2 separate regions of the Homo sapiens genome follow, and region 1 is linked to region 2. A link means that fine-mapping ties the variant in region 2 to the expression of a gene that starts in the linked region. Tissue or cell type: prefrontal cortex. Region 2 holds a variant in brackets; the other region holds the start of a gene. All regions are shown on one strand. Distances are from middle to middle. Region 1 holds the start of LINC02714 (long intergenic non-protein coding RNA 2714). Region 2 has its middle 3.6 kb from the start of LINC02714.

Region 1 (2,912 bases), 3.7 kb before region 2:
GCCTCCTGTCCCTCCCAGGAGATCCCACAGGTGATGACCGCCTGTGCCTCCTGTCCCTCCCAGGAGATCCCACAGGTGATGACCGCCTGTGCCTCCTGTCCCTCCCAGGAGATCCCACAGGTGATGACCGCCTGTGCCTCCTGTCCCTCCCAGGAGATCCCACAGGTGATGACCGCCTGTGCCTCCTGTCCCTCCCAGGAGATCCCACAGGTGATGACCGCCTGTGCCTCCTGTCCCTCCCAGGAGATCCCACAGGTGATGACCGCCTGTGCCTCCTGTCCCTCCCAGGAGATCCCACAGGTGATGACTGCCTGTGCCTCCTGTCCCTCCCAGGAGATCCCACAGGTGCTGTGGTTGTGCTGATGGAGGAGTGGTGACAGGGACGCAGGCAGAGAGGGGCAAAGTCTCACAGGGGCAGAGGGTGTCTGTGCCAGGTGGAGGGGCCTGGGGAGGAGATGGAGTGGCCTCTCGTGGAGGGGCAGGTACAGGAGCCAGGCAGAGCCCAGGGACAGGCCCATGCCAGCACCAGCCTGGGATGTGAAGGGATGACCTCAGGGCAGAACTCTCAGTGCAGAGCTCAGCACAGAACAGGACACCATCTGGGGAGAGTGGAGGTGCCGCTCATGTAACTGAGCACTGAGGACAGAGGACACATTCCCAGGAGCCTTCTGCTGGAGTCCACACAGGGGAGGGAGGGAGAGGGGGAAGTGCCCTTTTTCTTGTTTATCCTGTGATTCCATGGCTCACTGCCGTTTCCACAGCCTTTCCACTCCCCAGAAAACTGTGCAGCTCCGTTAATGATTTTCTCCAAGACCTTGCAGCTGATAACTGAGCCAAGGCCCAGTCCTGGACTCTGACTTCAGGATCCCACATGGGCTCCCGTGTACCATGAAGCCACCCGGATGGCCGTGGACAGACCCTTCAAGAGACACTTACCGCTGCTCTTCATTGAGTTCCAGCTGCAGTCCTCAAGGGGGATGAGGGGCATTTGTCCCCACCCTCAAGGGACATTTGGCAATGTCTGGCGTCGTTTCTGGTGGTTGCACCTTGAGGAGGGGCGCATATGCTCCTGGCATCTGGTTTTCTAGTGGGGAGGCTGGGGATGCTGCCAAGTGCCCTCCAATGCACACAGCGGCCACGGTGGAGACTGCAGCCTGAAAAGTGGGTGGTGTTGAGGCCGATACTCTGGCCCACCACGATGCCATGTCCTCCCTCTGACAACCACAATCAGGAAGACTTCTTCAGCTCGTCCTTGTGCCCCCAAAGTCCTCGTTCCCACGGGCCCCCAGGAATGGTTCTGGGAGTCCTTCGTCGCTTTCATGGGGGTGGTATGAGGCACTCCAGCTTCGTCGTGCCTTGTCTGCACCTTGTTCCCAGCACCGTCCTTCCTGAGCCCAGGGAGTCAGAATCCACAGTCTTAGAGTCTCCACCAGCAACATCTCAGCTCAGCTGAGGGTCATTCCTACTTTCAGAACAGGCTGACAGTGGGGCAGCCAACCACTCTGCCCACGAACCCCAGTTCTCCGTCGCTCACCACTCTGCCCACGAACCCCAGTTCTCCGTCGCTCACCACTCTGCCCATGAACCCCAGCTCTGCGTCGCTCACCACTCTGCCCACGAACCCCAGTTCTCCGTCGCTCACCACTCTGCCCACGAACCCCAGCTCTGCGTCGCTCACCACTCTGCCCACGAACCCCAGTTCTCCGTCGCTCACCACTCTGCCCATGAACCCCAGCTCTGCGTCGCTCACCACTCTGCTCACGAACCCCAGTTCTCCGTCACTCACCACTCTGCCCACGAACCCCAGTTCTCCGTCGCTCACCACTCTGCCCACGAACCCCAGTTCTCCGTCGCTCACCACTCTGCCCACGAACCCCAGTTCTCCGTCGCTCACCACTCTGCCCATGAACCCCAGCTCTCCGTCGCTCACCACTCTGCTCACGAACCCCAGTTCTCCGTCGCTCACCACTCTGCCCACGAACCCCAGCTCTGCGTCGCTCACCACTCTGCCCACGAACCCCAGCTCTCCGTCGCTCACCACTCTGCCCACGAACCCCAGTTCTCCGTCGCTCACCACTCTGCCCATGAACCCCAGCTCTCCGTCGCTCACCACTCTGCCCACGAACCCCAGTTCTCCGTCGCTCACCACTCTGCCCATGAACCCCAGCTCTGCGTCGCTCACCACTCTGCCCACGAACCCCAGTTCTCCGTCGCTCACCACTCTGCCCACGAACCCCAGTTCTCCGTCGCTCACCACTCTGCCCACGAACCCCAGTTCTCCATCGCTGCGGAGATGCTTTGGAGCCACCGCTGGGGGGCCCTCTCCAGCCCACCCCAGCCTCCTGACACAGTCTCCCCCGAAGACTCAGCTTCAGTCCTCCCCACAGAAAACTCAGAAACAGGAAATGAATAAAGGACCACAGGCTTGGCTGATTGGCAGAAGACAATGGAGGAGCTAGTGTTTGACAAAACAGTAACGACACCTCTGATGGCAGAGCCGCGCAGTTAGCATCTTCTTCCCAAATACAGCAAATTACCCAGCAAGGGCAGGAAGCTTTGGCAGAATTAATCACTACCTGGAAAACAATTTCACACTAGAATAAACAGGAGAGAGAGGGAATAACAAATGCATTGCATTGTCCAGTTGTTAACCTGGGCCTTGATATATATTAAAAAACAAGGCAATTACTTCCAGCAATGACAGAAACTCATCTTGTTTAGCAAAATAAGATAAAGAAGTCTGGGGGTGGAGAGCCAGCGATCTGAGCGAAGACATCCTGAGATGATAAATATCTCATGTCAAGCCCGCACTCAGCCGCAGGCTTCTTGGAACAGAGGCAGCCAGCTCCGTTCCATCTGAGGGAGCAGAGGAAGGAGGAAAGGCACAGAACATTGGAAAGGGAGCGGGCGTC
Region 2 (2,912 bases):
CAGCCACCACGACATGCCAGATGTGCTTCAGCATCACTCCCACGACTGACCTCATTCACACATGGAAATTTACAAGGAAAAGTTTTGTTGTGGACGTATCCAAAGAAAACGTGTCTATGCAGATGTAGTGGCAGAAGGGTGTGATGCCTTTACTCACTCATCCTAAGGCTCACAGCTGACACTCCTACAACAGAAGACAGGCTGACGAGAGAAAAGCATAACAGATTTACTTAAAGTTTCATATAATACAGGTGCCTTGAGAAATGAAGATCTGAAGCTGCAGGGGAACCATCTGTTTGTATCCTTAGGTTCCATGAAGAATGGACACTGTGGAGAAATGTGCTTGGACAAAGGGGGATGGTCTGTGGTGCTACACGGAGGCCTCCAAGGCCTGTCTGTGTGGCTTCTTCTTGGCTTTTCTGCATAGCATTTCGGCCTCCTGGGTATGGGCAGGACCCCTCTGGAATGAGGGCTCTCAAGGGAGAAGGGAGAGAGTGAACTTTGTAACCAAAAATAAAATTCTGAGACCCCACCGACTGTATAGACCCTCCTCTTGGCTTAGCGGACCTCCAAGAAACCTGAAAAGCTAGTTCAGGATGTAACCAGAAGAGGGGATCAGACACGCCTCGCTATCCCCTCTTCCCTTTGGAGTTTAGACACAACTGATCGGCACTAACACAAAAACAGAGATCTGAAGACAGACAAGCAGACTCTTTGTAGCCATGAGATTCCAAATTCTAGCCTGACTCTGGTATAGCATCATATGACACATAGCAGGCCCTGGAAGAAGTCAAAGTATTTTATCCCAAAATACATTTATTTGACATATGTCGAAGATGTTGAAGCGGTTCTGCAAAGCTGTCTCTTGTGGGGTAAATCTACATTCTATAGAGAGTCTCCTTCCCTTACTAGGTCTTTCCAGAGAGTCTGACACCTTTTGAGGTGTGATAAGAGACCTTCCACATCTATTCTCTCTGAAGCCTGCTACCTGGAGGCTTCAACTATAAGACAAGAACCTTGTCTTCCACAACCCCCTTATGTAAACTTAAGCATTTCTTTATGCTGAGTTTCACTCTCCAAGCAGGACTTAACTCTTTCAAACAGCTACCAATCAGCACATCTTTGAACCCCCCTTGACCTGGAAGCCCCCTTCTTCGAGCTGTCCTGCCTCTCTGGGCTTGCCAATGTACATCATACAAGTATTGATTTATATCTTGGCCTGGAACTTCTGTCTCCCCAAAATGTAGAAAACCAAGCTATCACCAGACCACCTTGGGCACACGTTCTTCTGAGGCTGTGTCATGGCCCATGGCATGTGTACCCGAGGTGGTTGGACAAAACAAACCTCTAAGTGGATGCGGACCTGTCTCAGATACCTTTTGGTTTACACTTGTCTATTGTCTACGTAAAGAAGGAAACTGTGGCAAATTTAATGCAGAGAGTTTATTTGGGCCAAGGTTGAGCACTTCACAGTCCGGGACACACTGTGAAGTGCTCAGGGAACAAAGGAGAGGCTCAAATTTTTAAAGAAAAAAGGATGAATCAGGAAAGGGGGTGATTACACAAGTTGTTGGTCAGGAATTCTAATTGGCTTGCAGAAATGACATTGATTAGTTATTGGTTATATATTGTTGAATGACAGGATGTGAGTTATGGTGTCCAGTGTAGGATGGCCATTCTTGTTAGATTAATTTATAGCTACTGGTGGCAACACTCAGTCCTGAGTCCA[C/T]ACACCAGGTGGCTTTGAAATGATTACTTACCTCAAGGTGCCTGCGGCATGACTCCTCTCTCATTTTAACACCTCCCAAGGCCTGATAATTTCTCATGTTCCTCAGATTGAAACTTTATTTTCTTTCTCACTAGGTTTCAGGGCTCGCTTTGTGGGAGAGGAGGTCCTTGCTTCCATGGCTGCCATGGGGAAGAGGATTCTGGCTTCTGTGACTCACGTCAGCAGGGAACGGGTCTGAGGCAGAGGCACTCAGAGCTCGGCTTCTGAAGCCTGCCAGGCTCCTTTAGCTCCAGTGCTCAGCATGCCGGAGCCCCACACTGTGGGCTATTGTTCTCCAGGTTATTTCTTTGTTAAGCTACATGCTGAGTCGTCTAGGCGCAAAGCCTCTGCCCCTCCTCCCCAAGGTATGTGCAGCACCATGCAGGCACATCATCAATGGTTATTAAATAAATGAATACATACCTTTTATTCTTTGCAAGAAAAGTCTTCTGTTTCTTTGTCCTGGCTCTTACCCATCTCTCCAGGCTTTTCTAGCCCCAGAGCCGACAGTCCAGCAGGAGATGACAAACACAGTCAACTTTTGGCCAAAGATTCTAAACCATGGAAAAGGGCCAGCTGGGGACTGGTCTTGTGAAGTGCATGGATTTGGGCTTTTATTAAGGCCAAGGAAAGACCAGTTTCCTCCTAGGAACAGGATAAAACTGAGCAAGGAGAGGTTTGGCTGGGGCTGGCAGAGCAGCAGGTGCTGTCCACTGGAAGCCTGTGTGCAATTCAAAGAGATGAGAGAAGCCAGACCCCAGGGAGGAGATCTCAGCTGGGAAACTCAAGGGCAAGGATGCTCTCAAAGATAACGGCTGCATTGTTTCCAAATTTTCAAAAAACTCTGTTAAATGTTCTATAAACCTCATTAGCCTTACAAATCATGAGCCTTTAGCCATGCAGACATAAGAGACTTTTAGATATGCACGTCTCTGGCTGACCCAGGAAACCCTACCTTAAAATGACTAAAGAAACTGCTAAGAGGTAGCTCAGCACAGCCCCAGACTGAGACAGGCTCCTGTGAGGCATTCAGGAGAGGGGCAGCCACCAGGAGGGCCTGCCTCTTGTTTAGGCTGAGAGGGCAGAACTCTGTGCTGTGAATTGAGGAAGCTGGGAAATATTTTTTCAATTAAATATTTCAGCT

Evidence for each region. PIP is the estimated chance that this variant, and not a neighbour inherited with it, causes the effect.
Region 1: it holds the start of LINC02714, and the variant in region 2 is fine-mapped to the expression of LINC02714 in prefrontal cortex (GTEx, PIP above 0.99). The same link has a PIP of 0.9 or more in anterior cingulate cortex and cerebral cortex.

The regions. Positions count from the first base shown.
Region 1 is chr11:134,734,567-134,737,478 of GRCh38, reverse strand. It overlaps LINC02714 (long intergenic non-protein coding RNA 2714), which reads right to left and starts at 1,534. Exons shown (of 2, transcript NR_147836.1): 1 at 937-1,534.
Region 2 is chr11:134,730,887-134,733,798 of GRCh38, reverse strand. No RefSeq gene overlaps it. Among named protein-coding and RNA genes, the nearest start is that of LINC02714, 3.6 kb to the left of the region's middle. The variant C/T (reference allele first, on the strand shown) is at 1,730.